2 separate regions of the Homo sapiens genome follow, and region 2 is linked to region 1. Evidence: fine-mapped expression QTL. Tissue or cell type: whole blood. Region 1 holds a variant in brackets; the other region holds the start of a gene. All regions are shown on one strand. Distances are between the middles of the regions.

Region 1 (5,000 bases):
CAGGGCAAGCTGCCCTTTCAAAGGAACCACCATAAGAGATGTTTGCATAGCCCTGATCTTCAGCTCTTTTTCTAAACCTGCATAGTAAGTTCCAAGCCATATTTCTAACAAGACTCAATTGTGTAGAGGCAAATATTTTAATGATAACTTCATGGCTTAAAACAAATTAGGTGTTTAGCCTCTTCCCCATAAAAGCCCCAAGAAAGAGGAGAGCTGCCATGCAGGGGCAGGATGTTTTGAACAACTGCAAAAGAGATCCCCTTTCCCTGCTGCTCTTTTAAGATTTGTTGATTTCATGAGCCTAATCTCTCCTGAAGGAGGAAAGGGTAGGATGGGAGGAGAAAGAGCTAAGCAGAGGAAGTGGGTTGATTGTGCATGAAGGAAAGCAGAACGGTTGAGCAGGGGCCATTGAGGCGGCATGACGAGGAAGCAGTGGGGAAGGAAGGAGTCATGGCAGGTCCCGCACCCAGATGGATCACATTGTCGAGGTCGACCAGATGACTGCTGCTCCTGCTCTCCCACAACCTCCATCCTGAGCTGTGAGCACACCAGGGAAGCCTCAGAGGGGAGTTGCTCACCCAAAAAGGACGTGGAATCCAAAACTTTAACATTCTTGATGCCTTTTCCATCAAGTGTTTCAAAATCCTCGAATAGTCCTACAGGAGCATTGAGAGAGCCTTGGATCCAGCTCAGGAGAGAGGAGCCCCTGCATGGCTCCCCCATTGAGGTGAGACCCCCCGCACCTGCCCCATGACCCTGGTGAAACCAGGTTTGTGTAACCACAGAGCTCCCAATTATGCCAGCTCAACCCAGACCCCAGGGGTCGTCGCCTGAGGATAATTTGGGGCCAAAACCCATGACAAATGGCTACACAGTCACTAGACCCCAACCCCGGAAGGGACAGGCGATGAAATGGAGAAACCAGATTTGGAGACGCGAAGCAGGCACATTTGGATTTGAACTTTGATTCTGAATCCTCGAGAAAGTCTATGATCTCAGTTTCTTCACCTGTAAGACAGGGATAATTAAACTAACTCCGAAGGGATGCTGGGAGAGCTGCATGAGACTCAACCGCTCTGCAGCAGGTCCCTAACTCTCTTCCTGGCTTCTGGCCCTAAGGAGAGGCCCAATAAATAGGTGTTGGTTGACTGAATGAATGAGCAAATGTCATTCAAAGTAGAGACTTCAGGAAAAGCACGTGACGTGCAGCTTTGCAACAAATGACACAGTCATCCACAAATAGGGCAACTGTCCCACAGCTGAAGTCAACATCTTGATGAGCAAGAGGCTTGAGGGGCGTTCCCGATGCACCATCACGCCTGTCACTTTAAATACTAGAGACAGGCACAAATGCCTTTATTGATCCAGAAGGTTTTAATGGCTCCCTGTGATCATTTCTAAGTGAATTTCACTTCTGCCAGTGAAAGCCTTGCCATGAGGAAGGCAATTACAGATGCTGTTTCCTAAGTGGCTCCCACAGGCTGACCTGTGCGCAGGAGGCTAGGACTCCCCACCTTCCGTGGGACAGCACTATGACAAGGGTCATAGGACGGCCATGTGGGGGACACAGCAGGTACCCTCAGGGTTGCCCCAGATTTTCTTGAGAGTGAGAGGACACCTTAAGGCAGCCATAAAACAGAAAGTGCTGTGCCCCTTTCCCAGTGACCCTTGCTGGGAAGGCCAGGACATTTGTTTCCTGATAGATCAGGGGCTCAGCAAAGATGTGTGGCAGGAGGCTTGCTAGGAAGACAGCTGATTCCTGGAATAACAGGTGTCTAGAAAGCCCAACACCCAGCTATTAGAGAGCAGGTGCCCACAGGACAGAGGTGAACTAACCCCCACGGCAGCTCATTGCTGCTGCCCAAAGGGCCAGTGCATGGCTAAGTTCCGGGATCCTGGGTCCAAATTCACCTGAAGCTTGAAAGAGTGGCCATGTTCCACTTGTTTCCCCTCCCTCCCTGCAATCTCCCACTGCCCCAAGGGCCTTCTGGATTCTATGGCTAAAAACAGATGAGTGACATTCAGATGGGAGTGGGCTCCATTAAGGGAAGCTGATTTCAGGTGTGTTTTGGGGTGAAAGGGGGTATCCTGGCATGCTAGCTGGTCTGAGCTGGTGCTCAAGCTGACTCGAGCAAGACATTTGGCCTCATTTCCTTGTCTGTAAATTGGGAATAATTTCCCCTCCTTCCAGGGCGGTGCTGGAGAGGAATGGAGACAATGCATGTCAGGCACCGAGTGCTGGGCTCCCAGGGGCAACCCCCTTCTCCCTACTGGGCGAGGTGCCCTTCTTGGCGGAGAGTGGGAGTATCTTGAAGCACTGGCTGACTCCTGCACCCCTGCCCCAGGAACCCAAGGGACAACCTTGGCAACAGGGAGAGGTCATTTAGAATGATTACTCTCCTGGTAGGCTGAGACCCCCATCCCTCAAGCTTAGCCCAGAGGGATTTTTCTCTTCTAAGAGGCTCCCAGAGAAAGGAGGGGCCCTGCAGCCTGCAGTTGCTCCTGAGTGCTGTCCCAGACAACTAAGGGTGGGAAATCCCGAGGGGCACCTGGAGCTTTACACTCTTCCAGCTGGGGGGCCACAGTTCCACCTCTGTACCCAGGCACGAGCCGCGAGCCATGGTGAAAAACCCCACAGAGTGACCTCACAAATAGCCAGATTTGTTCAGATGCATGGAGTTTTTGTTTCTGAATTTCTGCTGCTACCACTTTGCGAAACCACTTTCTCAGCAGAGACAATGTTTGGGGCCCCCCCATCC[A/T]TCCTCATTGTCTCATCTCCAGGCTAAATATATCCCAGCTTGTTGAAAACCAGCATCCACATAAGAACCAGATGGTGGCGAGATTTAGGAGGGTGGGGGTGATCTGGCGTTCTCACATTGCAGGGGGTGGGGGCTGGCCGTCTTCCACAGGCCAGACTGTACTCACAGACTGGGCATCTCACGCTGCCCCTTACTAACTGGGGGAGTTGCTCTAGAAGGTGCCTGGTGCTGGGAAACTGTTGAATGGCTTGATGGATTGAACACTGTCTGAGGAGTCAGGAGGCTGGGACTTGACTGTGCTCTGCTACCACTCACAGCCACACTCAGGGAAGCCCCTCAGCCCCACCACCAAACAGATTTCCCAAACAGAACGCTAGAGGGAGGAGGTGGGCTCTAGGAATTGTTCCATCATTGAGGCTCATAAGAGCAAACAACTGGAAATGACCCCAGGGCACCCTCCTGAAACCAGGACCTATCCCTGCAGTGGGACCCTTGGTAGGTCCTGATGGGGAAGGAGCACCAAAAGGTTGCTAAGCAAAACCACCAAATAAAACCCAAAACCCACAAAAACAAACACACCAACCAAAACAACAAAAGCAAACACAGAGTACCCCCGACATGCATGGAGCAAGCTCCCATTTGTGTGAAAAAGAAGAACAAATGGAGTGAGCGTTGACGGGAGTTGCAGAGACTCTCGCTGGTACCATGGGTTGCTGCCCACGCCAACCGGGAGAGAGACTCTCCCTGCATCCTCCTTCATATCTTTTGAATTTTGAACCATAGAAATGTCTTATTCTTAAAACTTTTAAATTACATTAAAAAATAGATCCTGTGAGACTTTCAGGAAGGTTGTCAGACCAGACTAGAAAATGTGCCAAGAGTGATGAAGCCTTCCAGGGGCAGGGTGGACGAATGCATCATGGACTTTGTCAGCCAAAATTGCCAGAGATGCAGGAGCAGCAACAGATCTCAGGGAGGGGAAGCTGGGCCCTCAAGTCTGGGGCAAAGGGAAACCTCATTTGTCTTGGTTAATAAGAGGAGACCTGTGTTCCCCCAGGGGCAGCTGGCTCCGAATGTCACAAGGTGATCTATTAGCACAAGTCTTTGAAAGGTCACAGTGGTGGCCTTGCCCAGAAGTGCCCCCTCCCCTGGTCGGTATAGAGCCCAGGGGGCTCTGGGAGGAAACCCTTGTTGGTCCCACCTCCAGGCCCAGCTGCCAGGTCCCCCTGGTGCACTTTATCTGAAAAGTCCTGTGGGCCCTGGCTTTTCTGTAAGGGAAAACATCCATTGCAGAAACATCCATTTTCTTCCCTGGGGAAATATCCTAGATGGGGAGTGGGCAGCCCTGGATTCAAACCCATCACAAGGGCTGCACAATCCTGGCCAGCCATTCATCTTTCCTAAGCCCAGGTTTTCCCATCTGGAAAGTGCTGCTACAACCTGCTCCTGGGCTGGAGAGGAGTTAAATGAGACAATGCCTGGGAGAGCACAGTGCATGCCTGGCATTGGCTGAATTTTGCAGACCTGCATATAGCAAATCCCATGGAACGCAGCGGGAACGCCCCTGCTGCTGAGTCTGGGCCTGCTTATTCTACTTAGATAATTAGAACCATAGTCACGGGAGATGTTGAGTAGGTCATGTCTCCCCCCAATCGCACGTTTCAATGATGAAGAGGTAGTGCACATCCGGGCATTGTGATGCTAAGGGACCTCGATCACTCTGTGACAGAACCCTGGTACTGTCCCACACAGCACTGAACTTCATTCATGATAGTCAATTTCAGTAAGTCCGTGATTTCCTTAAACTGGAGTAAAATTCAAAGGAGATATCATCCATCTCTCTCGCAAACTAAGTAAATCATCGTTCTCTGGCTAAACTATCAGATAGTCCCTGATTTCTCTTTTGCCAAGCCGAGCCCCATTTCAGATGGCTGAAATTTTCTGTTTTTAATTGAAAGCCTGTCTCTAGAGCCAGGAGCAAGTCTGTGGTCATGGGCTGAAGGAAACCCTTTGAGGATGTTGTTATAAGGTTTCATTCCCTGTACTGTGTTGAAGAGAGTGCGGTGGGGGAATAAGAGCTAATGTCATTATTTAAATGATCCCACAGTTCATAGGGTAAGCCTGTGGGTGACGGCTGCCCAGTGCACCTGGCCCCATGACCTACTATCTCACCTCTTTCTCCTTTGAGAGTCTCCAGAACTGACTCAGGAGGCAGCAGCCCCTGCCCAGCACTGGGGTGAG
Region 2 (5,130 bases), 110 kb after region 1:
AGTTATCATCTCTAACTAGAGCAAAAGCAACGGAGCAGAGAGGGCTCCCTGCAATGCAACTTCAGCACAGAGATTGTGAAAACCACCCGCAGGCGAAGGGAGGGCAGGGCAGCCAACTTGACCGTTTCTAACCCACTCACCCACCACCCTCCCCCTGTGCCAGGACTGCAGAACCTCTTTATTTTTGTTGACTTCGAACTAGGACAACCTCACTACTTAACCAACAAAGCCCCCCAAGTCTGAGACTCAGACATTAAAAACTTCTATTTTCAATTATTTGTCTTCTTTCTGTATATTGATCAAATTACCACAAACCACTAATCTGTTAGAAATTAATCCAAGATTGAGCAATTCTACAGCCAGTTAAGTCAGAGTGGAGAATTAATGATTAATTAGCATCATAATGCTCAACAACCCCCCCACTTCCTCTAATGCGTATGCACGTACAGACACATTCTTTAAGAAATGTATTACCAGAACTGGTAGGAACTCTTCTCAGCACGTTACCCACTTGAAAACACTAGAGAGAAACCATAGCCAGTCTGTGTAGCTGCCCTGAAGCTATGACTCTATGCCGGGTTTTAAAAGTCCATATCTCTGTGTTTTTAACGTGCAGCTCCCTGGATCATAGATACCTTGATGAAGACAGAGAAGAAATTTTACACCTGTGTGAGGGTTGGGTGATTACTGGAGCACAAAGAGAGACATAATCCAACCACACAATGATCCCTAGGAGACAAGAGGCCTACAAAACAGGTAAAATGTCCCTGGAACAGGAAATGTTCTTGTCACCAGGCCAATTGGTTACCACAAATAAATTCTTTTTCCAAATAACACAAACAAGCAGGGTTTTCCTGCTTCATCCAAGAGGAGGGAGCAGCAGCAGGAGACCAGCTGTCTTGTGTATAGTCCCAATGTTTGCTTCTAATAGCAAGACAAATCCTTGATGGAAAATGTACAAAGTAATTGAGCTGGCAAGGAATCAGAAGGAAATACCCAGGCCCCTTTCTTCCTGGTGACACATGTATGCCATCTTCAGAAGCTCAGAAACAAGCAGGAAAAGTGAGCAAAGGTGAAGATATATGTATTACTTCGGGTTTCTCATCCATCTAGGGGATTTTCCTTAATTGTCGGGTTTGATTTTAAATGAATGCCTGTACAACCGGAAATCAACTCCAGTACAAAAAATAAAGTCATGTGGAATTTTTGAAAATTGCCATACGGTAGGATCCATATCTGAGTTGTTATAATGAAAAAAGAATTCCTGCTTCTTAAATTTAAAAATTATAAAGTATACATTTTAGCTTTGTTAACATTGCTCAGCCTAACATTAAAACGGCAGGGGAAGTAGGTCATAGAGAAAGCGGCCCCGCCCCAGATGGCACATGATAACGACCAGAGGAGAAGCAGGGGCCATGCTCCCCTGTCACCTGGGGTGACTTTCTGGGGAAGACTTACTTGGGTGTGCCTGTGGGTTTCCAGTACCTGCAGAAGAGGTACTGTCCGTCTGCATTGACCAGGTGAGGGAGGTCCTGGTAGGGAATGCTCTGCGGGGTCCGCCTGGGGGAACTTTCCTCTGGCATGCTGGAAGGGTCTTCAGGTCCTAGAAGGAAAAGTGACATATTCCAAAGTCAGAAATATCTCAAGAACATGTATGGATAGGAGAGAAAAGTCTAGTTCAGAGTCAGTAACATTTTTTTAAAAGCAGTTTAAAAAACCCCTCTGTTTCAAAGGTTTAAAACATACATACATTTCTTGCAAACCTCTCCAAGACTGAAAAATCCCATTTGTTCTTAAGAAAATGCTCACTTTATTTTTTAAGTGCCTCATTACAGTTTTTCCCCCTTCCCATCTGTGTTTATTTTAAATCATTTCAGGAAACTTCATCTTAAAGACTATTTTAGCTGTAATCAAGTGGAAATTATAGTCAGCTCTATGGGTACAAAGACCCAGCTGCAAGAAGACCCATCTATCTTAAAATCTCCAAGGAACAGTTTCAAGTGGGCACAATAATGAGGTGGATGATACTCAGATTATTCCTCCCATCTGAAATTCCAAGGATACATGACAAACCTGTTTCCATTATGTGCTGGCGTTTGCATTCCACAACCACGACAGCCTGGAGAATCAGAACCAGGCAAATCGGGCTGTTCCCTCATCTGGGCGGCCCCAAGGCAGCAGGAAGGCAGCTCCGAGCCCTCTTCCCGCACCCAGACCCTGCCTTTCGGGCTGGGGCGCTCAGCCGGGAGCCTGCTTCCAGCTCCCACCGGCAGGCTCTCCGGGGCTCCCCTCCCTCCCCAGGGCGGGGAGCGGCGCTGCGATTCTCCACTACTAGTTCATGTCATCACTTTTCCTAAACAAATCGCTAGAGGGGCTCGGAGAAGGGAGGGGCCCGGGAAACTGGGAAACTAGCTCCGCGCACACCGAGGCACCTCGCAGACGCACAAATGCGGGTGCCCAAGGCAAAGTCGCCCCCAAGGCTTCTCACAAACTTTGCTTCCTGTGCGTCTCCGACAGCACAGGACACGTAGCCCCGAAGCTGTCATCGGAAATGCCGCTGGGAAAACCGGGTGGGCTTCGCCGGGTGTCTGCACCGGGGAAGGTGGGGACTAGAAAGATGGAGTTGATGGGGACAAGTTGGTTTGGGGGCTGGTGCGAAGGAGCAGGGAGGGCGCGCGCGCGCGCACACGCGCGCACACTCGGACACGCGCGCACACACACCGTGCACACACACACACGCACACATGGGTAGCGGGAGCCCACGCCGGGCGTGTCCGGGACCCCAGTGCTGCTCCCCACCCCTGACGGCGGCACTGGCGGGCTGGGGCAGGGGCCGGGAGGCAGTTACCGGGGCCACGAGCGCCGCTGTCGCGTTCCCCGAGCGCAGCGGATCCTCGTTTGCGGCGGGCCAGGGCCGGGACGAGCTGCGCGCGACCGGCTTCGCGGCGACAGGGTGCGGCGTCTGCGCCGCCACTTTATCCCTGGGCCGGCTCGGCGGCGGGGGCGGCCCGAGGTGGGTGGGGACGCGCGGGACCCGGCGGGCGGCGGGCGGCGCGGGGAGGCGGCGCCCGGGGCCCACGTGTGCCCGGCCCGCGGGGAGGAGCGGGGGCGCCGCCCGCCGACCCAGCCACGCACTCCTCTCCTCCGCGCCTCGTGGACAGCCGCGCCCCGGGGTGGCCGCCCGAGGACTGTCAGGGAGGCCTGAACTGAGCTGGGTTCATGGGAGCCTCAGCGCGGGAGGACACACCACACCCACGGGCACACGCGCGCACACAGACCCACAGGCACCACACGTACACAGACAACTCGCGCAGGGCCGCACACTCACCACACGTGTACACATGTGCACTCCCAAAGTCACTACACTGCACGCAGGGACATACAGACACACATCCCAGAGATACCACATGCATACAGACACACACAGACCACACATGCATGCACACACACAAGCCGAGACATAGGCACAGACAACCCACAGAGACACAGAGGTGCACAGACATATGCAGACTATACACCTGGCCCCCACATAGACACAGACACACTCACATCATACACACACAGTCGCACACAGACACACTCACACTTCATTGCAGTCAGACACATACAATGCTGGAGGGGCAATTAACCGGTCGTGGTGGCATGCGCCTGTAGTCCCAGCTACTCAGGAGAATCGCTTGAACCCGGGAGGCAGAGGTTGCAGTGAGCCGATACCACACCATTGCACTTCAGCCTGGGTGACAGAGTGAGACTCCATCTCGGGGAAAAAAAAATGCTGGAGGGGGTCCACTTGACTCTAGGGTAGTGTAAAAGCAGATGGTGCATGGCTACAAATGCCTTGTCCCTTCCTGGCAATCCCCAGCAACTCTCCCGTTCCCAGCGGCTGTGACCCCCAGATAAAACCTCTGGTGCATCTACACAGGCCAGGGCACAGTCTGAGCTCTGTCCAGTATAACTAGCAACGTGGCCGTGGAGGGTAAGGCCACTGGACTGAGACTCCACACCACCTGGGTTGAACATTAGCTCCTCCGCTTGCTCTTTGAGCCTCAGTCTACCTACCTTCAACCTGTGAGTGATATACCTATGCCCCAGTGGAGTGTCCCTGTCTCACACTGACCTCAAGAGGCCTTCCTGTCTTTCTCCGCAAAAAATTCTACACCATAGCAGCGTTGAGGACTGTGTCTCAGCGTCACACTGTGTGTGTCCAAGGAGGCCCAAGTTGCTACAGAGCCTGTGGTCTAACTTGAGAAATAAAACAACAGCCTTTGAGCAGTGGCTTGAGTTGTAGGCACTGCTGAGCGTGACTTACCCACTGTCTGGCCTCCAGCAGGCCACGAGGCCTGGAGCAGAGGAGTGGCTAAGTGACTTCTGGTCGGGGCAGCTCTACAGAATCCATGCAAGAGAGGTTTAGGGGCGGCAGTCTCAGGGGCAGGAAGCTTGGGGGCTTCACTCAAAGCTGGACATGCTAAGTGCACCGGATTTCCGTTGGTTATAATTCATGGAAAGGAAGGGTGCTCGGGGGTCTGATGGACGCTTTTATCAAGGCATTATTTCAAATGTTCCTGGCTCTAACATTTTATGATTTAAAATACACAGCTTGAAAATTTGGAGGAGAGGCCGGGCTCAGTGGCTCACGCCTGTAATCCCAGTCCTTTGGGAGGCCAGGCAGGTGGATCATCTGAGGTCAGGAGCTGGAGACCAGCCTGACCAACATGGTGAAACCCCATCTCTACTAAAAATACAAAAATTAGCTGGGCATGGTAGCGGGCACCTGTAATCCCAGCTACTCGGGAGGCTGAGGCAGGAGAATCGCTTGAACCCGGGAGACAGAGGTTGCAGTGATTGCACTCCAGCCTGAGCGACAGAGCAAGGCTCTGTCTCAAAAAAAAAAAAAAAAAAAAAAAGCTTTGAGGAGAGACTTCACTGAAGTTGTCAGAGGGATCTCAGTAGAAGTGACATTTGCAAACTTGAAGAGATCCCCCAAACTTGGTTATGGACAGAACTGAGACTGTGGTGTGTGGCCAGCCAACTGGGAATTTGGGAGTTAAGAGACAGATCGTATTGTTCTGTATCTGGCTTTTTCTTTTAATTAAACTTATTCTGAGATAATTGTAGATTCGCATGCAGTTG

Evidence for each region. PIP is the estimated chance that this variant, and not a neighbour inherited with it, causes the effect.
Region 2: it holds the start of MGLL, and the variant in region 1 is fine-mapped to the expression of MGLL in whole blood (INTERVAL, PIP above 0.99).

The regions. Positions count from the first base shown.
Region 1 is chr3:127,715,275-127,720,274 of GRCh38, forward strand. All of the region lies in intron 5 of MGLL (monoglyceride lipase), which reads right to left. Among named protein-coding and RNA genes, the nearest start is that of ABTB1, 45 kb to the left of the region's middle. The variant A/T (reference allele first, on the strand shown) is at 2,760.
Region 2 is chr3:127,820,236-127,825,365 of GRCh38, forward strand. It overlaps MGLL (monoglyceride lipase), which reads right to left and starts at 2,280. Exons shown (of 8, transcript NM_007283.7): 1 at 2,074-2,280; 2 at 1,459-1,603. The coding sequence starts at 2,083. RefSeq lists a silencer at 2,722-3,241.